Linked DNA regions of Homo sapiens. The protein of the gene in region 1 purifies or fractionates together with the protein of each later gene. This does not show direct contact. Each region holds a gene or a part of one and is shown in the gene's direction. Other genes may lie near its edges. The genes, in order: DHCR24, RTN4, NPLOC4, ATP12A, PPM1A, REEP5 and FUNDC2.

Region 1 (3,500 bases):
AAAAAAGGGTGTCATCGTAACTTCCTGGGACTGTTGTAGGAATTACACAAGACAGTGTGCAGTAGATGCCTAGTGTGTTGGGAATACCCAGTAAATGGTCCTCATTTTTATACTTGCTATTATCACCATTACAAAACCTTTTCTGAACTTCCCAGCTAGAGTTAATGTTTTCAGAACACTTCGATCCTCTCTTCTAGCTCTTTCATCATTCTGCCTTGTGGTGTAGCAATATGTTGGCTTTTCTGTCAGCCTTGCTGGCCAGGGAGGTGCCAGAGGGTAGGGCCAGCAGGCCTTTTCATTGTTCTGTTTCTCCAGTGCCTGATGGAGGCATCATTCCCAGCTCGCCCTTGAAGAAAGCAGGGCTGCAGGCTGCTCTGGGGATTCCCAGTGGGGCCAGCTCACCCTCTGTCCTGTGGTTGCAGGTGCGGGAATGGAAGGAGCAGGGTAGCAAGACCTTCATGTGCACGGGGCGCCCTGGCTGGCTCACTGTCTCACTACGTGTCGGGAAGTACAAGAAGACACACAAAAACATCATGATCAACCTGATGGACATTCTGGAAGTGGACACCAAGAAACAGGTGAGAGTAGCACTTTTCCGGGCTCTGGGAGCAGGTGGGGCACTGCCCCTGGTGCAAGTGACTCATAGGGAGATGATTTTAGCCAAGGGCATTGCAGAGTGGACAGGACCAATGCCCACAGTCATAGAAGATACTCCCTGCCATTGCTGTCCTCAAGCCTCACAGCCACCAGGGGAGAGATGGGTCATAATAGGTCAGGGGAACCCTTTGCGTTTCCACAGGAAGTCAGGAATGGGGAATTCGTGAGCAAAAATGAGAGGCAAAAAGGAATCTACTTACCCCTTCCTGATAAGGAAGTGTGCTGGTAAAAAATGGGCTACAGAAGTGACTGAGAGACATGGGTCTTGTTACAAGCTTCCTGGAAACCCTCTTGTTTAATAGCCTTCGAAATGTACATACTTTTTGGCCCATCTAGTAATTTTACTTCTCGAAACCTGGCTTAAGGAAAAAGGAAATAGGCTTCAGTATAAAGATACCCAACACAGAGTGATTATATCACAGCTTTATTTCTAATTGACAACAACACAATATCCAATAATAGGGTAGTCATTAAATATGGTATGTCTACTTGATGGCATTTTGTTATTATTGTGAGACCTTGGCCAAGTTACTTAATCTCTCTGTGCCATTTTTTTTAATAGCTTTATTGACGTATTTAAAGTGTGGTAAAACTCTTACCACAATCAAGACAACAAACATACCCATCACACCCCAAAATCTCCTCATGCTCCTTGGTAATCCCTTCCTCTAGCCCCTAGCCCTGCCTCTTCCCCTACCCGCCCCCCACAGCCTTAGGCAAACAATGACCTTTCTGCCACTATAAATTAGTTTGATTCTAGAGTTTATATAAATGGAATCATACAGTACTTTTTGTTTGTCTAGCCTCTTTCACTCAACATCTTTATTTGGAGATTCATCCATGTTGAAAGGTGTGTCAATAGTTCATTCTCTTTCACTGCTGAGTCATATTCCCACACATATTGTGTGGATGTATCACAGCTGGTTTATCCATTCACCTACTGATGGACATTTTGGCTGGCTCCAGTTTGGGGCAATTACAAATAAAATGGAACATTTGTGAACAGTCTTTGTATGGGCACATGCCTTCCTTTCTCTTGGGCAAATATCTAGGAATGGAATGGCTAGATCATAAGGTGGGTGTACATTTAACTTTTTAAGGAAGTGCCAAATTTTTTTTCCAAGTGATTGTAGCATTTTACATTTCCACCAGCAGCGTGAGTGTTGTTCTTGTTCCACATTGTAATAGACTTGATATGGTTAGTCTTAATTTTAGCCATTCTAATAGATGTGTAGTAGTTTTTCATTGTAATTTTAATTCACATTTCCCTAGTGACTAATGATCTTTCCATGTGCATGTTTGCTATTTGTATATCTTCTTTGGTGAGGCCTGATCAAATCTTTTGCCAATTTAAAAAAATTCAGGTGGTTTTCTTATATATTCTGGAAACATCTTTTTTTTTTTTCTTTTAAACTTTTAAATTAAGTGGTACCTGTACAGGTTTGTTATATAGGTAAACGTGTGTCATGGGGTTTGTTGTACATATTATTTCATCACCCAGGTATTAAGCCTAGTACCTATTAGTTATTTTTCCTGATCCTCTCCCTTCTCCCTCCCTCCACCCTCTGATAGGACCCAGTGTCTGTTGTTCCCCTGTATGTGTCCATGTGTTCTCATCATTTAGCTCCCACTTATAAGTGAGAACATGCGGTATTTGGTTTCCTGTTCCTGCATTAGTTTGCTAAGGATAATGGCTTCCAGCTGCATCCATGTTCTTGCAAAGGAACATGGCTGCATAGTATTCCATGGTGTATACGTACCACATTTTCTTTATCCAGTCTACCACTGATGGGCATTTAAGTTGATTCCATGTCTTTGCTATTGTGAGTTGTGCTGCAGTAAACATACACATGCATGTGTCTTTATGATACAATGGTTTATATTCCTTTGGGTATATATACCCAGTAATGAGATTGCTGGGTCAAATGCTGCTTCTGTTTTTTGGTCTTTAAGGAATCACCACACTGTCTCCCACATGGTTGAACTAATTTACACTCCCACCAACAGTGTATAAATGTTCCTTTTTCTCTGCAACTTCACCAGCATCTGTTATTTTTTGACTTTTTAATAATAGCCATTCTGACTGTGTCAGATGGTATTTCATTGTGGTTTTGATTTGCATTTCTTTAATTATCAGTAATGTTGAGCTTTTTTTCATATGCTTCTTGGCCACATGCTTGTCTTTTGAAAAGTGTCTGTTCATGTCCTTTTTATATTCACTTTTTAATGGGGGTTGTTTTGTTCTTGTAAGTTTGTTTAAGTTCCTTATTGATGCTGGATATTAGACCCTGAAACAACATCCTTTATTAGATTCATGATTTGCAAATATTTTCTCACAGTCTGTGGCTTCTCTTTTGAAAACCAGAAGCTTTATTTAGTTTTTCTTTTTGAGACAGAGTTTCACTCTGTCGCCCTGGCTAGAGTGCAGTGGCACGATCTTGGTTCACTGCAGCCTCCGCCTCCCAGGTTCCGGTGATTCTCCTGCCTCAGCCTCCTGGGTAGCTGGGAGTACAGGCATGTGCCACCACACCCAGCTAATTTTTTGTATTTTTAGTAGAGACGGGGTTTCACCATGTTGGCCAGGCTGGTCTCAAACTCTTGACCTCAGGTGATCTGCCTGCCTTGGCCTCCCAAAGTGCTAGAATTACAGGCGTGAGCCACCACGCCTGGCCAAATCAGAAGTTTTAATTTTTCCCAATTTGTTAATTTCTTCTTTTATGCATTGTGGGGGTTTTGTTTGTTTGTTTGTTTGTTTGTTTATATTTTTGTTTTTTGAGACAGAGTCTAGCTCTGTGGCCCCGGCTGGAGTGCAGTGGTGCTATCTCAGTTCTCGGCAACCTCCA
Region 2 (3,500 bases), on another chromosome or scaffold:
CTGACTCCAGATTTAGTACAGGAAGCATGTGAAAGTGAATTGAATGAAGTTACTGGTACAAAGATTGCTTATGAAACAAAAATGGACTTGGTTCAAACATCAGAAGTTATGCAAGAGTCACTCTATCCTGCAGCACAGCTTTGCCCATCATTTGAAGAGTCAGAAGCTACTCCTTCACCAGTTTTGCCTGACATTGTTATGGAAGCACCATTGAATTCTGCAGTTCCTAGTGCTGGTGCTTCCGTGATACAGCCCAGCTCATCACCATTAGAAGCTTCTTCAGTTAATTATGAAAGCATAAAACATGAGCCTGAAAACCCCCCACCATATGAAGAGGCCATGAGTGTATCACTAAAAAAAGTATCAGGAATAAAGGAAGAAATTAAAGAGCCTGAAAATATTAATGCAGCTCTTCAAGAAACAGAAGCTCCTTATATATCTATTGCATGTGATTTAATTAAAGAAACAAAGCTTTCTGCTGAACCAGCTCCGGATTTCTCTGATTATTCAGAAATGGCAAAAGTTGAACAGCCAGTGCCTGATCATTCTGAGCTAGTTGAAGATTCCTCACCTGATTCTGAACCAGTTGACTTATTTAGTGATGATTCAATACCTGACGTTCCACAAAAACAAGATGAAACTGTGATGCTTGTGAAAGAAAGTCTCACTGAGACTTCATTTGAGTCAATGATAGAATATGAAAATAAGGAAAAACTCAGTGCTTTGCCACCTGAGGGAGGAAAGCCATATTTGGAATCTTTTAAGCTCAGTTTAGATAACACAAAAGATACCCTGTTACCTGATGAAGTTTCAACATTGAGCAAAAAGGAGAAAATTCCTTTGCAGATGGAGGAGCTCAGTACTGCAGTTTATTCAAATGATGACTTATTTATTTCTAAGGAAGCACAGATAAGAGAAACTGAAACGTTTTCAGATTCATCTCCAATTGAAATTATAGATGAGTTCCCTACATTGATCAGTTCTAAAACTGATTCATTTTCTAAATTAGCCAGGGAATATACTGACCTAGAAGTATCCCACAAAAGTGAAATTGCTAATGCCCCGGATGGAGCTGGGTCATTGCCTTGCACAGAATTGCCCCATGACCTTTCTTTGAAGAACATACAACCCAAAGTTGAAGAGAAAATCAGTTTCTCAGATGACTTTTCTAAAAATGGGTCTGCTACATCAAAGGTGCTCTTATTGCCTCCAGATGTTTCTGCTTTGGCCACTCAAGCAGAGATAGAGAGCATAGTTAAACCCAAAGTTCTTGTGAAAGAAGCTGAGAAAAAACTTCCTTCCGATACAGAAAAAGAGGACAGATCACCATCTGCTATATTTTCAGCAGAGCTGAGTAAAACTTCAGGTAATCCAATCTATATGCAGTTTTGTGCTTTCATGCCACTTTTGGATTTAGGGAACATTCCACTACATTTTGTGTTTTATATTATGTTTATAGTGTCTCATATGTCACATTGGTAAGAAGTCTTCTCCACTTTTTCAGTTAAAGGTTTTAGTGCTTTTTCTAACTCTCTTGCACTCAGCATTCACCCTTAACTTTTCCACACAGTTACACTTTTATATTGCACTATGGAACTATTAATAGAAAATATTTTTGTTTATAAGAATTGGCTTTAGTACCTATTTCTTTCTTTCTTTCTTTTTTCACTTGTGTTTCTTGATAACATGAAGAGCAAGAGATATTAAAATATTTTCAGATGTGTTTTTGTTATCCCAGAAATTACCATATTTAATTTTTAAAGAAAATTTCTATAGTATGTTTTAAATATTTCTATATAATATAGTACTTTTCCAGTGGTAGGTATAAAGTTAGGCATATTGAGTGTAGACATTTTGTTGAAAAGTATAAAATGAGTTATGCTATTATGAATTCTTTTGAAAAGTACCGATTCTCCTTTTTTTCTTTTGACTATCCATTTTCCACATACCTGATTTGCATAAGGTGATTTGCACAAGGTGATTTGCACATGTGCTCTTTATTAGCATTCTGATTTAGCTGCGTTTTCTCTAAAATAGTGATTATGATAAATTTACTGAATATACTTATGTATTTAAGTGCTGGTGCTTCAGCAGTACAGTCCAGCTCATCACCATTGGAACAGTGGTAGACCAGTTGCTGTAATCTAAGAAAGAGGAGATTATGAACATTCAGGCAGTGGGATGAGCACAGAGACATAGGACTTGGTGTTTGACGGATAGGGACATAAAGGATGAGGGGAAGAGGTAAAGATGACCCCAGGAACCCTGGATTTCATTTCTGGCATGTGCACTTGTATGGGTGGCAGTATGAGAAACTGAGATAGGGAACATGAGAGATTAAAGTAGGTTTAAGAGGGAAGATACAAATTTGGTTTTGGATATGTTGGTATTGATGTACATACCTCTAAGATATCCAGTAAGTTATGGATATTATACACATGAAGCTCTTGAGAGAGATCTTGGCTGTATGTGTCTGTCATGGGCTTAGAGATAGAAATTAAAGCCCCAGATACCAATTAGGAAGAATCAAGAGAAGAGGACTACTTGAAGGTGGAAGAAATGGTCAAAATTATCAAATACTGGAGAGGTCAGTTAAGGATTGCAAGTTGGTCAAAAAGGAGGGAAGATATTGTCATGACAGCGGCAAATGGTGTGGTGTGCATGGGCATGGCTAGGATTGAGAAGTGAATGAGACTTGAGTAAGTGGTTATTAAATGTTGATTACTCTTAAGAAGTTTGAGATTTTTATTGGAGAAAAATTAAAATATTAGCAAGCAGGAAGGAGAGTATGCAGTGGAGGTAGGACTTTTTTTTTAAGGTGGGAAGGGGAAAATCTGATTACAGGTGCTGGCAGAAAGTCAGAAGGGGATGGGGATGTGCTGCCTAGTTCAGGTGGAAGAATTAGTGTTAGAGAGAAGGAACGATAGAGCTTTGATTGTAGTGAGTGGAAAGGAAAGTATGGGGTATTGATACTGTTAGGGTTTTGTGACTGAAAGTTGAGGGAATTATTTGATGGTTTATGTTTGTTCTTTAAAGCAGTATGTTAGTTCATTTGCTGGGAATGAAGTAGATCATGCTTGGGTGGAAGAGATCTGCAATACCTCTGACTAGGGAAACCAAAGGCATTGTATTAGGAGCCTAATCAAGGTTGAAAGGTGGTCTAAATGGTAGGGTGACTTTTCTTTGATTGTGCCAAACAACCTAGGTATGGGTTCAGGGAAGGCAAATGATTGTATTGATTCAAGGATGTGTTTTGGCAGGTGGGCCCTGTGGAAGGACAGTAAGTCAAGAAAGTTGAGGGTGATAGCAGGAGAGTAATTTGAAGTGATGGACTGTGGCATCTAAGTTGAAGGATGTGAATAGAAAAAGGTAGGAGAGGTAGGAGGAGAGTAGATGGTCAGTGAACTCAAGGCCCAGATTAGGTTTAAGAACCAATAGTAGTAGGAATAAATACATGCCAGAATGATAGGAGATTGTGGTCAAAGTAGGGGAGAGAAAGA
Region 3 (3,500 bases), on another chromosome or scaffold:
TCCACCTCAAAATATGTTCCCATAAAAAATTTTGAAGCATTTGGGTACAAAGAGACTGGAAAGGTATTGGGGGAGTTGGGGGCCTCACACCAAGTCTTTACTGTGATGTCCCCTGGAGATGCTGATTCCCGTGCAGAGTGGGGTGTTAATCAGCAGCTGCAGGGGAGGGAGGAGGGAAGGGGCAGGTGGTTGTGTGTGCGCATCCATGTGAGGTGAGTGCTGTGTCTCTCATTTCATAGCGGTTGGATGATTTTGACCTGCCACACTAGTGTGCGCTCTCCATCCCTGCAGCAAGCATTTCACTTGCAGAAGATGCTGTGCCTTGGAATATTCCCTCCTCACCTGGGGCTATATGAAGTGCTTATGCATATGTACATTGTTTATTTTAGATTTTTTGCAATTCCTTTTAAATAAACCAGTGAGAAGGATCTGAGTTTATACTTGGCCATGTGAAATTGTCTGAGCGAAGGTTGTCTCTGCAGTGGGGTCTTTTTTAAAATGCATCACTCTGTAGATGTGACGGGGTGCTGACTTTGCGGTATTGGGATTCCAAATGCTGCATTAGCAACTTTTATGTCTTAGATCAGAGAGCCATAAATGGTGCTCTCCTGCCATTGGCATGGAGCCACTTTGTAGCCATAGCCATTAGCCGGCATGCCTCTTCCATTTGTGTCTCCTCCCAGGGGCCTGGCACTGGCTTGCTTGCATGATCTGTGTCTTCATGGCTTCATTAGCAGCTTTTGAGAGCGTGTGTGTGTGAGAGAATTCTGAGCCATCATCACTTAGATCCTGCCTATTAGGAAGCACAGAGGCCACCTCTGTTCCGCAGCACAGGGCTCATACGCATGTAAGAATTCTGACCCCACTTAGAAAGGGGTCTGACTGAGCCCCGGAGGGACGGCCGCCGGCGCCCTCGTAAACCAGCATACCTCTCCTTCAGATTGTGCGTGTTGTGCTCCCAAGGCTTCTGTGACTGAAAATGTTAGAAAGCCGTGGGACAAGGTTTTTTCATTGTTGTTATTTCCCAAAATGCATATGAAGTAGGTATTTTCCAAACTTGGATTATTTATGCACCGCTCTCAGGCCCTTTGCCATGTTCACGTACCAGCTTTGTTATTATTTATTTAACACTTTTCTTTTTTTTTTTTTTTTTGAGATGGACTCTCGCTCTGTCACCCAGGCTGGAGTGCAGTGGCGCGACGTCCGCTCACTGCCAGCTGCGTCCCCCCGGTTCACGCCATTCTCCTGCCTCAGCCTCCCAAGTAGCTGGGACTACAGGCGCCCGCCACCACGCCTGGCTAATTTTTTTGTATTTTTAGTAAAGACGGGGTTTCACCGTGTTTGCCAGGATGGTCTCTATCTCCTGACTTGTGATCCACCCGCCTCGGCCTCCCAAAGTGCTGGGATTACAGGGCGCAAGCCACCACACCTGGCCTATTTAACACTTTTCTTTAAATGGACTTGGCCAGGCGCAGTTGCTCACACCTGTAATCCCAGCACTTTGGGAGGCTGAGGCAGGTGGATCACCTGAGGTCAGGAGTTTGAGACCAGCCTGACCAATATGGTGAAATCCCGTCTCTACTAAAAATACAAAAATTAGCCAGGCATGGTGGTGTGCACCTGTAGTCCCAGCTACTTGGGAGGCTGAGACAGGAGAATCGCTTGAAACGAGGAGGCGGAGGTTGCATGGAGCCGAGATCATACCTCTGCACTCCAGCCTGGGTGACAGAGTGAAACTCCGTCTCAGAAAAAAAGAAAACAAAAAAAAAACTATTTTATTTATTTATTTATTTGAGTGGAATTTCACTCTCGTCTCCCAGGCTGGAGTGCAGTGGCACAATCTCAGCTCATCGCAACCTTTGCCTCCCAGGTTCAAGCAATTCTCCTGCCTCAGCCTCCCTGGTTCCTGGCATTACAGGTGCTTGCCACCACGTCCGGCTAATTTTTGTATTTTTAGTAGAGATGGGGTTTCACCATGTTGGCCAGGCTTGTCTTTAACTCCTGACCTCAGGTGATCCACCCATCTCAGCCTCCCAAAGTGTTGGGATTAGAGGTGTGAGCCACTGCCTTTGGCCAATAAACTACTTACATTGACTTTGAGTTCATTCACTTTTATCTTTGGTTTGTGTCATTTTTTTTTTTTTTTTTTTTTTTGAGACGGAGTCTCGCTCTGTCGCCCAGGCCGGACTGCGGACTGCAGTGGCGCAATCTCGGCTCACTGCAAGCTCCGCTTCCCGGGTTCACGCCATTCTCCTGCCTCAGCCTCCCGAGTAGCTGGGACTACAGGCGCCCGCCACCGCGCCCGGCTAATTTTTTGTATTTTTAGTAGAGACGGGGTTTCACCTTGTTAGCCAGGATGGTCTCGATCTCCTGACCTCATGATCCACCCGCCTCGGCCTCCCAAAGTGCTGGGATTACAGGCGTGAGCCACCGCGCCCGGCCTGGTTTGTGTCATTTTAAGCAGTGGATACCCATGAAGTCACAGGTTTGATGTGCGGGTCAGTTTTTTCTAATTCATATCAACATAAGTAGTAAACTTCTGGGTGTGGTGGTGTACACCTGGAGTCCCAGATACTCGGGGAGGCTGAGGTGGGAGTGCTTGAGCCCAGGAGGTGAAGGCTGCAGGGAGCCACGATCACCACTGCACTCCAGCCTGGGCGATAGAGTGAGAGCCTGTCTTTAAACAAAACAAAACAACAATTAAAATATAAATGTTTATCCATGTGCCATCTGGAATATAACTCCACGTGGGCAGGGAAACACTCTGTTAAAGTAGGACGTGCATGTGAGACAGCAGCAGCGGAACACAGACATCCTCACTGCTCTGCCTTTTTCTGCCTTGTACTCTCCTCAGATGCCGCCACGGCCCTTTGGGGAAATGCGTGCACTGCGTCCCTCTAGAGGTGAGAGTCTCTGCGGAGTAAGTTCTGGGCCAGTGTGGGGGGCTGCGGGTAGACAGCTGTCTTAAGTGCTTGCCCTGAGTCCACGCACTTGGCTGTAGTGAGTGGTTCAAAGAACTTACCTATTTATTGCCCTGGGCCTCATATTCCCCTAGTGCAAGCTGCACACAGGACGAGCCTTTATTTATGGGAGTGACCTTCTCGCTGGATTATGAATGGCTGAAGCATTTGTGTGGCTGTGATAAAGGGGCAGCATTTACAGCGGGCTCCCTGGACAATCCTTTTCCGATCTGACACAAAGCTGAGCCTGTCGGCCTCCGTGCTTATCATTGTTGATTTACTTTGCCTTGAATCTCACATCTCTTCTACTGGTTTGTCCTGGTGAGACTGAGAGTTACCGTAATAATGCCGACTGGAACTGTTAATGCTGGGTTTACAGCAGGAAGGCCAGCCCGATTTTCTTCATGAGGCATCTCTTGCCTCATCTTGTGGCATTTCTTTTTGCACAATTTTCCTGAAACTCATTTGACTTAGAGCGTTTTGTGTTTAATAGAGATTCATTTTAATCTTGAAAAGATAACTGGCACACAAAGAAAAACT
Region 4 (3,500 bases), on another chromosome or scaffold:
TGGCCTTCCATTCAAGGATCTTTTGTGGTCTTTGTCTAGTTTTAGCCTGGTGATGGCCATGTGCTGGTGACGTGCACACGACGGTCCTGCCCTTAGCCTCCTCCTGTGCTCCTGTTCAGTATAGGTGGCACATTTCTTCCTATAAACCTGGACTGCTTTGCCAATTTGCTGGCCCGTATAGTGTCTTTGTGCAACCTCAACTTCCTCATCCTTTCAGATGGGCATGGATGGAACTGTGCTTGTAGCAGACTCCAGAATGTGCTTCTGTCTCAGCTCTTTGGAACGAGAGAAAGACATAATCTTCCTACGAATGTGGGAAGGTGCATTGAAATGACTTTTATGATTCTTGCCTCAGTCAAAAGTCACAAAGGGACTGCACTTCCTCTTGGTCACTGCCACTCTGCTCATGGCCACAAAAGGGAAGAGTGGATTACACATTTGTATACAAATCACCACACTGAGTGAAGTGGATGCTTTTGTGAATGTTTTCAGTTATTCACTTCATCAGCTCTAGTTTCATGACCATATAAAAATTGCATCTTAGCAGGTGTAAGGGGAAAGGAAACACCCCTTCTTTCTTCTCTTACTTTCTTTTGTTTTGTTTTGTTTTGTTTTTTTGCCAGCGGTTAAGGAGACCTGTAGTTTGAGTCAAGTGCTAGAATTCCAGTATTTAGCACCAAGAGGTAAAACAGACCTAGAAAGCTCAAAACTTGCAAATTGTAAAGAAAAAGACCTGCAGCAGTTTGTACCTACATTGTTTAAGCTGAGATTTGAAGGCTGAAATGTAGTGTTAGCCACGAGAAGCTGAGGTGAGAGATGCCCATTCCTGGTCAGGGAGCGAGACCCGTGAAGGCCTTAGGGTACAGGGGATGGAGGATGTCAGAACTGAGAGCATCCAGCGGGCAGGAGGGAGAGCCCAAGGTGAGGCGAAGCTTGACAACGCAGGCCCCACCTGGGCTCGCTGGCTAAAGTTAGGGATTCCGGGGTCTGCTCCAAGCACGGTGGAAAGCCCCTGAAGAGTTTTAGCAGGGGACTGGCTCAGGCAGCTCTGCATAATCAATAGGCCCTAGAACCTTACTTTTATAGTCAGCAGGCAATAGCGCTGCTCAAAGACTTCAGTAAACTTCTGCCTACGTAGCACATTGCACAAAGATGACACTCTGTAAATCTGAAATACCCAACGGCAAGTAATTATTACCCCTTGTTTGGCCATAAAAGAATTCTAGGACCCAAAACATATGAACAGGCAGTTTGGGGGTTTTATTTTTATTTTTGTTTTTGAGACAGGGTCTCACTTTGTCACCCAGGCTTGAGTGTAGTGGCATGATCATGGCTCACTGCAGCCTCAACCCCCCAGGCTCAAGCAATCCTCCTGCCTCAGCCTGCTGAGTAGCTGGGACCACAGGCACATGCCACCATACCTGGCTAATTTTTTAAAATTTTTTGTAGAGACAGGGGCTCTCACTATGTTGCCCAGGCTGGTCTTGAACTCTTGGCCTCAAGTGATCCTCCTACTCAGCCTCCCACAGTGCTGGGATTACAGGCATGAGCCACTGCGTTTGGCCATGAATGGGCAGTTTTTTAACTTCCTTTTACTTCTGAAGTAAAGCGTTGCTCTAGGAAGTACCACTCTCACCTGTTCTAGTAGGGATAAGGCTACCTGGTTTTTTATTCCTATTGTTATATGGTACCAAGAAATGGTGTTATATTTTAGCCTCAGTTTGCCCTCTTGAAATGGAGACTAAAGTGTTCCCAGGACTCCTGTTACCTCACTAGAGCATTAGGTATCAAGGACACTGGGTTCCAGGTCAAGTCAGAGAGGCTTCAGCCAGCATCCTGCCTGGAACAGTGTTTCAACCTAAGATCTGCCCTTGGGCCTCACCCAGTTTCTTCTGGCCCTTCTAGGGATGCCAAGGCCGCTGTGGTGACTGGCATGGAGCTGAAGGACATGAGCTCAGAACAGCTGGATGAGATCTTAGCCAACTACCAGGAGATTGTCTTTGCCCGGACATCCCCCCAGCAGAAGCTGATCATTGTGGAGGGCTGTCAGAGGCAGGTGGGTGGACAGCAGTGTCCAGAGGACTGACAGGCCCATCACTGTCCATGGGCAAGTGCAGAGGTCTGGATCTCACATCAGGCTGTGGTGCCTTTGAAACTTCAAGAGAGAGTTCTTGGCTCATCCCCATCACCTGACCTCTCCAACCTCTCAGGTGGGCTGGCCCCTGTCCTCCTTTGAGACCCCCACCACATGTTCCCCGAAAGGCTCACCCCAGCTCTCTGCATTTTGTCATGAGAGCCCGGTGAAGCATTTGCCACTGTGGTAGTTGTGAGTAAAGAGAGATTTAAAATGCAAAGATTTAAAACAAAAAATGTGAAGACATAAGATACAAGACACCTGCGCATTAGGTTTTCCTCATTTGCACGTATCTTGTTTGGAGACCCTTGTTCCTGCTTCTAAGATTTCTCATCTTTATCTTTTCCCCTAAATGGGCCTTTCCGTTCAGCTATAATCATCCTCGCAACCTCAAGAGAAAGGGAAGTCTTGTTGCTCTTGCCAGGCCTGCAACCCACTGGGCCTGCTCACTCCCACTTTCTCCCTGGGTCCCCCGCCATAGGATGCTGTTGTTGCTGTGACCGGGGATGGAGTTAATGACTCTCCGGCTCTAAAGAAGGCAGACATTGGGATTGCCATGGGGATAGCAGGTTCTGATGCAGCCAAAAATGCAGCCGACATGGTCTTGCTGGACGACAACTTCGCATCCATCGTCACAGGGGTGGAGGAAGGTGAGTGAGTCTCAGGGGGTCTTCCCAAGGGCCAGGGTGGTCTGGGGGACTAGAAGTAAGTTCTGAAGGAGAAACCTCTCTGCCTAGGTCGCCTGATCTTTGACAACCTCAAGAAGACTATTGCTTATTCCCTGACCAAGAACATTGCCGAGCTGTGCCCCTTTCTGATCTACATCATTGTCGGGCTCCCCCTGCCCATTGGCACCATCACCATTCTGTTCATTGACTTGGGGACAGACATTGTAAGTGACACTGAAGGGAACAGGCTGTGATGCCTGCCCCAGGGGAGGTCAAGTTCAGGGTCGCTACCTTCAAGGGCCGGGGATGGACTAACTCAAGGCTTCTCAGCTTCCATGTGATGGGGCCTGTAGCTCTGCATTTCTCACAGGTTCTCAGGTGGTGCCCATTCTACCAGTCCACATGCCACACCTCAAAGCAAGGGACCAGAGGCATCTGCCAAATGTTTGGAAATTAAAAACACTCTATAGTGAGCTTTTTTTTCTTGAGACAGAGTTTCACTCCCATCACCTAGGCTAGAGTGCAGTGGTGCTATCTTGCCTCACTGCAACCTCCGCCTCCCAGGCTCAAGTGATTCTTCCACCTCAGCCTCCCAAGTAGTTGGGACTACAGGCTTGTGCCACCACACCTGGCTAATTTTTGTATTTTTAGTAGAGATGGGGTTTCCTGGCCTCAAGTGATCCACCTGCCTCGGCCTC
Region 5 (3,500 bases), on another chromosome or scaffold:
AATATTCACTTTACGTTATTTTGTTACAATAATAAGTTTTATATTTCTTATTATCAAGCAAGAGTTGCCACCTGGACAGAGTTTACATTGATACTCAATATTTTTGATATGTTAAAGTGTTATTATACTTGTACCATTCAATTGGAGATTGTCATAAATTAAATATGGTATTTTTTACTCAGATTTGATGAGACTGCAACTAGAGAATAAATATTACATTAAAATTGCTGCTATTTTAAAACATAGAATGTAACTGTTTGTATTGTAAAAGTTGTGTGTCCTCAGTGAAAAATACTGCCTTCAGCTTCCAAAGCAGGCACCTGAATGCCTTTTTCTTTTCTCTCTCTCTTCTTTCTTTAAATACATGCCTTCACTAGATTGCTGTGACCTACTAAACCTCATTTTATTTGCTTGGAACATTTTTGGCTTCTCTGTCCACACCATAGAAAAGGACAAAGGCCTTCCAGCTCTCCTTTTCTCTTATTTGTTCCCTTCTAAATACTTGACTCTCTGGGGGTGTGAAAAGATTCAGCTCATAATTTATACTACTATTAATTTTGTGGTCCTTCTAAGCCAATTTAAAATTATACTTTTGTGTATATATTTTCAAAATCTTTGCTACTGACTACCTTAGCTTTAAAGTTGCTAATTTGGAGATGACTGATAGAATCCCTGAAACTTGGTGGAGGGGAGTGGAAAGGAGCAGAATGTGTTTGTGTATATGTATGTGAAACATGGATCTTCTATATATAAATATTCTTTAGAAAAAGCGTTCAGTCTTTTTACAATTCTAAGTAAAACGTATAGGTCAACAGAAATTAAAGGAATATTTCTTAAAATTCATTTATTTTTCTTTTTTGAAAGCAGACAGAAGCAAGGCTAGTATAGTATGAATGGTCAGGTAGTTTAAATGCGTTGTCCCACGTGGAACAGGAGATATTAACTGTTTTTAAAGCTTTACATTATTTTTTTACAAGAATTTGTTTTCCTGTAATTTTCTTCACAGTTAAAATATCCTAATTTATATTTTAACAAAAGAGATGTAAGATACATCAAATATAGATGATTCAAGGTAATGTTTTTTAGACCTGAAACTATTGATTCAATTTATCATCAGTGTTTATTTCTATTGTATCTAGTTATCTATCCAAATAATTGTATTGGCTTAGCGGAGACTGTATGTTAAGTGTATTAGTTTTAGATTGTGAAATTGTGCAGTTTAGGTAAACATCAAATCCCTTTATTTTTGTACAGCAGATTTCCAGCATTAGAACCATGTAGAACAAATATACTAGATGTTAAAGATTACACAATAAAGGAACTTGGCAAACCAAATCTGAGATCCTTGCTTTTTGTTCAGATTTAAGACTGTTTTTTTTTTTAAGGCAAAAAATAATAGATGGTAAAAATTTGGCCTTTATTCTAAAAGGACAGTTTGAACCATTTAAAGAAATATTATGGGTAGCCATGTCTTTAAAAATTTTGAGGCCTGATCAAAGGACGAATCTTTATACACATTGTTATTTTCAAAGGTATTTACAAATTGAGAAGCAGAATGATGATTTCTTGCCCCACTAATGACAAATAAAATACCATTTCTTACCATAAACATTGAAAAACAAACTGAACAAAACTTGACCATATAACTTACAAATACTTTTGACTTGAATTTGCATGTGGAGTATGTGTGCTAAAACTGCAAGTGAAGACTTTTTATACTTAGAGGAATAGTTGTAGAGTTCTTTGTAAGGTTCTTTGTTCATAATTTTTTATATTTTGTGATGTGAATAATAGTATGCATCTGCATGACAACACTGCAGATCATATTGCTGTGCCCTTTTAATAACTGGATATTTTAAAATTATTTTAAATGCAGTTGTATGGTTTATCAAATGGTTCTCTTTTTAAACATTTTATAAGGAAATTTAGACCTTTTCTATTCAAGGCTTTGTTGAAGTAATCAGTGAAGGAAATGGTATTATATATCTATACAGTATATTGTTTAAAGGTACTTTAGAGAAGAATTAAACTGAGACAGTGATGTTCAAGTACATAATCTGTGCATGCTATTTAAGTATCATTTTGCAAATATAAATATATACATAAAAATAATTGAGTTAGTATATAATCTATAAATTCCCCTATAATTAAGGGTTGTTATTTTCAAATCTTGAAATTGTTTATTTTTTAAAATTCCACGCAGTGTATTATATAGGGCAAAGTTCAGGAAACATGTTTCCAGTCTAAAGAGAGGAGTGATGTAAGAAGAAACTAGTTGACATCTTAAGAAAGGGTATTCTCACTTGTGCACACATATCCTTGATTATATAATATGCTGATTTAACATGAAATATTTTTTCACATTTTAATTTTGATTTGAAGTTAATCTTATATGTCATTTTGTGCATTTTTTGTCATAAATCTTCAAAGGTCAACCTGATTTTTTTTTTTTTTAAATGATACCAGATTAGAAAAATCTCAGATGTGGTAAATGCCATCTTTAAAAAGCTAGGTTATCTTTGTTTCGGTTTTCTTTTCAATTAAATTTGGATAACACTTACAAAAAAAGTACTTCTGATTCCCAGAAATCATAAAGAAGCAGGGGGAAGGCGTCCCCGACTTAGTCCATGTGATGCGCACATTAGCGAGTGAGAACATCCCCAGCCTCCCACCAGGGGGTGAATTGGCAAGCAAGTAAGTTACATTCTGTACACTCTTATGCTTTATGTCAGTGTATGAAAATGTTAGGTATTCATTGATAAAATGTTTGTTTGCCTAATTTCTGAACTGATGCAGTTATCTGTGTTTTAACCTGTGATTTCAATTTTTTTTTAGTATTAGAATATCTAGAGTTTGTTTAGACATAGGTATCAGTATCATTGTAACTAATTGCAGTGAGGGTTGTCTTTATTGGAAGCTTGGTTGGCATTGATTTCCTCATAGAGCATAAACGAGATAATATACTGAAAGAACTTTTTAAACTAAATTACATAGCACTACATAAAAATTTACAAAATTCTAAGTGTCGTTGTTAGTAGTAGTATAATTTGATTTGGTCAATCCCTGAGTAACTTAACACCCTGAAAATTCCCCTTCCTCATATGGACCATGTTTCTATGCCTGATTTTCCCAGTATTTTTGGTTGTTGATTGCTGGTTAGTTGGTTTTAGGTGTCAGGGAAGAAGATAGAATATATTTCTTGTCTTTTCCCTTTCCACTTTAGTTCATAGAATTGGACTACTTTGTGTTAAATATTAAGCTTACACCTTTACATAATAAAGTGGAAAATTCAAGCAATTCCAAGGGTTAAAACATTTTTACCTCAAATATCCATATAATTGACTTACAAACATAAAACTTGCAAATACCTTTAGCTTGAATTTGGATATAGAGTAAATGTGCTAAAACTACAAGTGAAGACTTCTTGTACTTACAGTGAAGATATATTATTGACTAATTTTCTCGATTCTCTACTGTGTTTTGCAAGTGTGACCATGTTC
Region 6 (3,500 bases), on another chromosome or scaffold:
ATTTAATACTAATACATTGGGTATTAGGTCCCAACATATGGATGTTGGGGGAACACAACATTCAGACCATAGCAGTCACCTTCATTTTAACTATTCTCCATACCTCTTGTAACTCTTATGCTCCCTAGCCAGAGTTATTTTTTAAAATACAGGTTCATCTATTTAGCAAAAATCAAATGCCAGTCACATGTGTGGCACTGTGGTAGCACTTTAGATATGGCAAGAAATAAGGTAGTCATACTCTCTGTCCTTGTTGAATGAGCAGTCTACCCAGGCAAGAAATAGGCAAAGTAGTGACCGTGTGGTAAGCCCTCTAAAGTAAATAAACAGTTCTGGTAGAGAAGACCTGAGGAATGAGAAGGGGCCAGCCAAGAGCAGAGCCAGGGAGAGGGAGAAGAGTGTGTCAGGCCCTGAGGCAGCACACAGCTTAGCTCTGTGTGAGCAAAGAGTGGTGGGGGAGGCACCAGAGAGGTGCAGGTGCCAGCAGGTAGGGTCAGTGGTAGAAGTGTGCATTTCATTCCAGATGGTGGTAGGGAGTTTGCATTTTCTGATTGCCTTGGATGGGTTTTAAATAGGGGGTGACATGATACGATTTATATTTTAAGGTCACTTTGGCTGCTGTGACCTCTGTAAGGAGTTCGCGATCTTGCCAAACTATTGCCAGTAATTTACTTCCTTCCTTTCTCACCTTTCAGCCTTTCTCTTGCTGTTTCCTCTCCTTGGGCCATCACAAGAAGGGGAGTAGTGTCAGTATTGGGTCAAGAGACTGCAGGATGCAAAGATGAAATTGGGAAAAGCTCACTTGGCTTCCTAGCTTTTCTCCCTTTGGACTCCCTTTGGAAGTCTGTGAGTGAAGCTCAGGTGCACCTGGCTCCTGGTCAGGGTCTGCTGCACGTTGGAGCATGTAGATGGTTGAAGACTTGCCCAGTGCTCACTGGGGAGCAACCAGTACCTTATTGTATACCCCTCTTCCTACTGGTTGTTCTTTCCGTGTGCATAATTTCCCTTTGAGCTCTTTGAGAACAGGGTCTTTCATCTCTGACTTCTAGTTTCTAGAATTTTTGGCCATCTTATATAGGCAATTCGGAATCTAATTCCAGCCTTCCTTTCATCAAGAACTGTTGACATAATTACCTTAATCTCCTTACTTCCCTCTTTTACTGATAACAGGAGGCAGACTACTGGAAATGTTTATTATAAAGATAGACCTCCCCCCATTGCTAAGATATAATTTAGATACTTATAAATTGTACACTTTTAAAGTATGCAGTTCAGTGGCTAGTATGTTCAGAGTTGTGTAACCATCACCACTGTCTAATTCCAAAACATTTTTATCACCCCAAAGGGAAACCATCACCAATCACTCCCTATTCCTCCTACCCAGCCCCTGGAAACCACTAATCTGCATTCTGTTTCTATGAGTTTGCCTATTCTGAGCATTTCATGTAGACGGAATCATACAATATATGGCCTTTAATGTCTGGTGCAGCCCTGCTTCTAATGGGATTGCACAAATAAGAGTCCTCTGGAGGGTGTATGCTGTGCTGCACCCTCATATGTGAGTAAGTCCTCCTGGTGCAGTCCCTCCAGGGTGGGCGCTAGTGAGCCAGGGCCCTAGTCCTGTACTTGCTCCTTTGTACAAATGGAATTGTGAGGCAAACTCAGACTTTATCTTCTATTTAAGGAAAGGGGAAGGTTTGCTTTCTGTCCTACCCAGTAACTTTTTTGCTTAAAATTCTATAAAAATGTCTATTACTTTTCCTCTTTTTATTTCATATTTTCCTTAAGACTTGGGCTGCCACCTTCCTGGGACTATCAGAGTTGGGCCTTAAAGATCAAACAGGTAGTCCAGTTCCTTTAGTTTTAAAATGACAATTCAGGGACAGAGAAAGGTGGAGTGTGTTTCCCAAGGTCACACAGAGGCCAGGCTTGGTCTGGAACTACACAGGAATGTAAAGCACATTTAGGCATATTTTAGTGCCAATGTTAGAAAGATTAAATATGTTTAGGGGGCGGGGCATGATGGCCCACATCTGTAATCTCAGCACTTTGGGGTGCTGAGGCAGAGGGATTGCTTGAGGCCAGGAGTTCAAGACGAGAGTCCAGCACTATATATTTAATCTTTAACAACACTTTTGAAATCTCATACCCAGTTCAGTAATGTGTCATTTTAGTTTCTGTGTGTCCTCACAAGCCCATTTTAAACTTTTGCTGCTGGTGTAAAGAGTTATATTGCATTTAGCTCTTTGTATGACTCCTGAAATCTGTGTAGCATTTTATTTAACAGATATGTACATATCTCTGTCTAAGTGCTTTGCAAATATAGCTCATTTAATCCTCAGAACAACCCTATTATGTAAGTGCTATGATTATTCCCATTTTTACAGATGAGGAAACACAGAAAGAGAATTTGAATAACTTGATCAAGGTCTCACAACTAGCAGATGATGAAACTGGTATTTAAATCCAAAGAATCTGGCTCCAAATTTCATGCTTTTAATGATTACGTTATGCTACCTCCCTTGTGGCTCTTTGAATGTCCCACAAACACAACATCACCTTATGTAGAGATGAAAATTAAAAAATGTAGGCCTTTCAAAAAAACAGTTGACCCTGTCAATACATTACCTTTGTGCAGTGTATTTTTCCTCTCAAATAAGGTACTGTCATCCCAAATCATATATCTGCACACATAGGCATTGACTGTGTTTTGTAGACATTAGTTAGAATATGTTACTAACAACTTTTCTTATCTGTTATGTAGCTTTGACTTATGACAGCAGAGGCTTGCTCTGTTTTACTAGCACAAGGCCACCTGAAAATGGCACACTGAACTGGATTTCCTAAGGGGATGCAGCGTTGCCTTTAGTTCTGTTTCAAGAGACAAGTATCTCAAGGGAAGATGTTTGGGGATGACCCCTATCGAGGTCAGATCAGAAAGGGATGGCAAGAAGGTTAATTTGAAGAAAAAAAACAATGAAAATATCTACAAGAGTTGTAACACAGTTAACCACAAGTAAAAGCAACAGCATCCTCTTAGCTAAATGATGCTCAGCACACAAAGGGAGGACACATTCTGGGGAACACAAGTTAAAAAGAGTTGCAGTCTACTTGCTTAAGGTGTGCATTGACAGACTCCTAAAGAGGTTTATTACCCAGAGGAGACTTTGAGAAAGTCACCGTGGTGTGAATGACAGTTGTGAACAGACACTTTCTGTTTTGCAGCTAGTCACTGGAAGCAGAGCTGTTTCCTTAACAGTACTGGAGGATGTGTATTTGTAGTTCTCTTCTTGGACTCATTAGTAGGGGGTGTATTTGTTTTCTTGTGGGTTTTTTTTTTTTTTTTTAAATTGTAATTATGTTTTGTTCTTTTTTACTCATGAGAACTTCAGAGCAGATGTATTTTCTACTGAGCTGCCTATGTTCCCATTACACTAGCTTTTCTCTCTGGATCTATATGTGCTTTGTTAAAGTGTTGAAGAGCAGAGCAATGCATGCCT
Region 7 (3,500 bases), on another chromosome or scaffold:
CACAGCCGTTTGTCTCTTCCCACAGTTGGCAACCCTCACTTTTGCAAGGTAAGTTCTGCATTAGCACCATGATTGGAGTGAGTTTTGCAGATAGGTCAGGTGAAAATCAAATGTATCGAAGAGGGAAGCTGGTAACTGGCTGTAGCTGGGTTGAGTGTGGTATTGCTGCATGACAAATTCCCCCAAACCTAATGGCTTCAAATAATGATCACTTTATTCTCTCTCATGGTTACAGGAGTTTGGGGAGGGTTAAGGTAGGTGCTTGTGGATCAGAGTCTCATGTGGTTACAGGCCAGATGATCAGAGGGTTAGGGTAGGTCTGGACTTGTGGGGCCTCTTTGTGTCTCTGTCTCTGTTTGTCTTCCCTCCTCCTCTCCTTATTTCCCCCCTGTCCATAGTCTCAGTGCTCTTCCATGTGGTCCCTGTGCCAGTATAGGCTTCCTCACACTACCATGACCTCAGGACTCCCAAGCACAGTTCTGCAGAAACATGGTGCAAGTTGCATCTCCTTTGTTGCCCAAGCCTCACTTTTGTTGGCTGCTTCCCTGTGGGCTTGTTACGTGCTGGCTCTGTTGCTAGACAGGTCAGACTCCCTGCAAGGTGGGGCCCCTCCTCACACCTCTCTCTCCTTCCCCTTGACCCTTCAGGTGGAAGTGCAGTAACATCTCTATCCCTGTGGTTTCCCTTATATGCTGCCCCAAACTTCATAAACATTTTAATATTGCTTTGAAATGTCTTAATTTGAGTGTGTCCTCTGTTTCGTTTTGGGGCCCTGACAGAAATAATTGGTATTGAAAATGTCTCCAGAAAGGCACCTCAAAATGAGATTTTGGGGTTGGATAATTCCAATATTCAAGGGGTACAGGGACACTGCTTTGCTGCAGAGGTGAGACATGGAGAATCTGTGGCAGGCACTCATGTTATCTGTCACCAGGGGAGTGAGAGCAGGAGGCAAGCATAATGTTGGGAGATCAGTTATATCACAAGTTATAGTTTGACATAGGGATCCAGTTTCCTTTTTTCCATACTGATAATTGAGCAGAATTTAGTGAATAATTCTTCCCTTTCCCAACATTTGCAGCATTGTCTCTTTCATATATCAGAACCCATGTATGTGTGGCTGTGACTCTGGTTTCTGTGTTCTGTTCCACTGGTCAACTTTCGATCTTTATGACAGTACTAAAGCTTAATATTTGGTAATGCAAATTCCTCCACCTTATTCTTCAGGAGTGTTGCAGCTACTTTTGTGTTTCTGCTCATTCATCTAAATTTTAGATCAGACTTGTCAGTTATTTTCAAAAATCCTGTTGAAATTTTTATCGGAATTGCATTGGAACCATGTAGATATCTCTTATGATATTGAGTATTCTATCTGTGAACACGGGCTTTCTCTCCAATTATTTAGGTCTTCTTTAATGCCTTTGAATAGACTTTTTATTATTTTTCCGTATAGATCTTGTACATCTGTGATTCAGTTTTATTCCTGGATACCTTATAACTTTAGTTGCTCTTGTGGATGATACGATTTTTAAAACTACACATTCTGATTCATGCTAGTGTGTTGAAATACAGTTGATATTTTATGTTGCTCTTTCAGCCAGCCACCTTGTTAAAAAAGTCTTGTCTGGGATTCTTTTGGGTTTTGTCTATAAAATCTTTTTATGCCATCTGTGAACAGTGAAATTTTTCCTTCACGTCTTTATGAATGTAGTTGCTTTTTCTTACCAAGCTGTAGATCATTTCCAGCACTTTTTGCAGCTTTCAGAGCCCAGCAGCAACGCTTGCCAGTTTTCAGTTTATTCGGCTCCCTCTACTTGTTGTGCTGCAATGGAAGTAGGATGTTGAGCTTTGTCAGTAGAGGGCGCTGGAGGGACCTTGCAGCGGGAGAGGCTGCTTTTCCCAGTTCTGGTGTTGCTTTGCCCCTGCAGTGCAGTCCCCCAGTAATGCCAAGGAGAGCAGGAAGTCACCTCGCAATCCTGGCCTGGGCCACCCAGGGGACTTCACCACCACCATTACTACTTTTGCCCCCTTGTGAAAAATCAGTTTGTTGTAGTTGTCCACGTCCGTTTCTGTACTTTTTATTCTGTTCTGTTGGTCTGTGTGTCTATCTCTTCTTCAGTATGACACACTGTCTTGACTACTGTAGCATTATAGTAAATCTTAAATCAGGTAGTGTGATTTCCCCAACTCTGTTCTTTTTCAGATTCATTTTGGTGATTCCAGTTCCTTTGCCTTTCCATATAAATCTTAGAACCGGCTTATTTATGTATCTATAAGAAATCCTACTGGGATTTGTGATTTGGGATTGCAGTAAATCTATGGATAATTTGGAGAGAACTGGGCATCATTTCTGTGTTGAGTATTCCATTCCATGTACATGATGTGTCTCTCCATTTATTTAGGTTGTCTTTGAGTTCTTTCTTCAGCATTTTGTAGTTCTCAGTATACAGATCCTGTATGTTTTATTTGATTTGTACCTAATATTTAATTATTTTTTGCACCCATTGTTGTAAATCATTTAAACATTTTTCATTTCCAGTTCAAATTGCTAGCATATAGAAATTCAGTTGGTTTTGTGTGAATTTGTGTCCTGTGACCCTGCTAAACTCACTTTTTTAGTCTAGGAGTTTTTGTTTTTTGTTGAAGTCTATGAAATTTTCTATGTAGACAAAGATGTCTATGATTGGAGACAGTTTGACCTCTTCCTTGTGAATCAGGATGCCTCCTAATTCTTTTTCTTGCCTTGTTGTGCTGACTCTGAATTCACTTCTGGTACGATATTTAATAGGAGTGGAGACGGCGGACAGCTTTGCCTTGTTCCCTGCATTCGTTCTTTCACCATTCTGTACAGTGTTAGCTGCAGGGTTTTTTATGTAGATGTTCTTTATCAAGTTGAGGAAGTTCCCCTCTATTGCTCTTTCTCTGAGAGTTTTATCATGAATTTGCGTTGAATTTTGTCAGATGTTTCTTGAGTCCTGCCTTGAGGTTAGGCCAGGCGATACTGCAGGAAAAGCAGGAAACACGCCACCAGTTTGGTGGTGCTTTGAATTCTGGTCTTCTCCAATCTGCACGTCGCTGTTTTTATGTAAGAGCCTTCAAATAGCTAGTCCATGTATTCTCTCAGTTTAATAGCAGGATTTTGTGGGATAAACAGGGTGGAGTAAATGAACCAGAGCCTTCTTTTAGATACAAATGTTGATACTCAACTATGTGGTTGCTGTAAGTAATTTGTTCTTTTTAGTACTAAGTAATATTCTATTGTGTAAATATGATACAATTTGTTTATCCATTCATGTGTTGATAGACTTTTGTGTATTTCCAGTTATAGACTCATAAATAAAGGTACTATGGCTTGATTACTTGTGAAGTTGAACTTTTTCCTTTTTGTGGACACTTTCCTCTGAATTGCCCTTACCCATTTTTAAAGTGAACTTTCTTACTGATCTCTATAAGAAGTTCACTTTTTTGAGTATCAATGTTTTGTTTATGATACACATCAC

What was found.
Region 2: the proteins of DHCR24 (region 1) and RTN4 purify together in Homo sapiens (affinity purification with mass spectrometry; one large-scale study listed by BioGRID and IntAct). This does not show direct contact.
Region 3: the proteins of DHCR24 (region 1) and NPLOC4 purify together in Homo sapiens (co-immunoprecipitation; one large-scale study listed by IntAct). This does not show direct contact.
Region 4: the proteins of DHCR24 (region 1) and ATP12A purify together in Homo sapiens (affinity purification with mass spectrometry; 3 studies listed by BioGRID and IntAct, with this or other methods). This does not show direct contact.
Region 5: the proteins of DHCR24 (region 1) and PPM1A purify together in Homo sapiens (co-immunoprecipitation; one large-scale study listed by IntAct). This does not show direct contact.
Region 6: the proteins of DHCR24 (region 1) and REEP5 purify together in Homo sapiens (affinity purification with mass spectrometry; 2 studies listed by BioGRID and IntAct, with this or other methods). This does not show direct contact.
Region 7: the proteins of DHCR24 (region 1) and FUNDC2 purify together in Homo sapiens (affinity purification with mass spectrometry; 2 studies listed by BioGRID and IntAct, with this or other methods). This does not show direct contact.

What each region holds. Positions count from the first base shown.
Region 1 is NC_000001.11:54,880,696-54,884,195, reverse strand, and holds part of DHCR24 (delta(24)-sterol reductase precursor), read left to right. Parts: intron 1-422; coding exon 423-578; intron 579-3,500. UniProt on the Homo sapiens protein: Catalyzes the reduction of the delta-24 double bond of sterol intermediates during cholesterol biosynthesis.
Region 2 is NC_000002.12:55,022,952-55,026,451, reverse strand, and holds part of RTN4 (reticulon-4), read left to right. Parts: coding exon 1-1,366; intron 1,367-3,500. UniProt on the Homo sapiens protein: Required to induce the formation and stabilization of endoplasmic reticulum (ER) tubules. They regulate membrane morphogenesis in the ER by promoting tubular ER production.
Region 3 is NC_000017.11:81,609,613-81,613,112, reverse strand, and holds part of NPLOC4 (nuclear protein localization protein 4 homolog), read left to right. Parts: intron 1-2,854; coding exon 2,855-2,903; intron 2,904-3,500. UniProt on the Homo sapiens protein: The ternary complex containing UFD1, VCP and NPLOC4 binds ubiquitinated proteins and is necessary for the export of misfolded proteins from the ER to the cytoplasm, where they are degraded by the proteasome.
Region 4 is NC_000013.11:24,704,408-24,707,907, forward strand, and holds part of ATP12A (potassium-transporting ATPase alpha chain 2), read left to right. Parts: intron 1-1,905; coding exon 1,906-2,056; intron 2,057-2,615; coding exon 2,616-2,784; intron 2,785-2,871; coding exon 2,872-3,026; intron 3,027-3,500. UniProt on the Homo sapiens protein: The catalytic subunit of a H(+)/K(+) ATPase and/or Na(+)/K(+) ATPase pump which transports K(+) ions in exchange for Na(+) and/or H(+) ions across the apical membrane of epithelial cells.
Region 5 is NC_000014.9:60,287,221-60,290,720, forward strand, and holds part of PPM1A (protein phosphatase 1A), read left to right. Parts: exon of another isoform or gene 1-1,335; intron 1,336-2,585; coding exon 2,586-2,694; intron 2,695-3,500. UniProt on the Homo sapiens protein: Enzyme with a broad specificity. Negatively regulates TGF-beta signaling through dephosphorylating SMAD2 and SMAD3, resulting in their dissociation from SMAD4, nuclear export of the SMADs and termination of the TGF-beta-mediated signaling.
Region 6 is NC_000005.10:112,915,728-112,919,227, reverse strand, and holds part of REEP5 (receptor expression-enhancing protein 5), read left to right. Parts: intron 1-3,500. UniProt on the Homo sapiens protein: Plays an essential role in heart function and development by regulating the organization and function of the sarcoplasmic reticulum in cardiomyocytes.
Region 7 is NC_000023.11:155,047,344-155,050,843, forward strand, and holds part of FUNDC2 (FUN14 domain-containing protein 2), read left to right. Parts: intron 1-3,500. UniProt on the Homo sapiens protein: Binds directly and specifically 1,2-Diacyl-sn-glycero-3-phospho-(1'-myo-inositol-3',4',5'-bisphosphate) (PIP3) leading to the recruitment of PIP3 to mitochondria and may play a role in the regulation of the platelet activation via AKT/GSK3B/cGMP signaling pathways.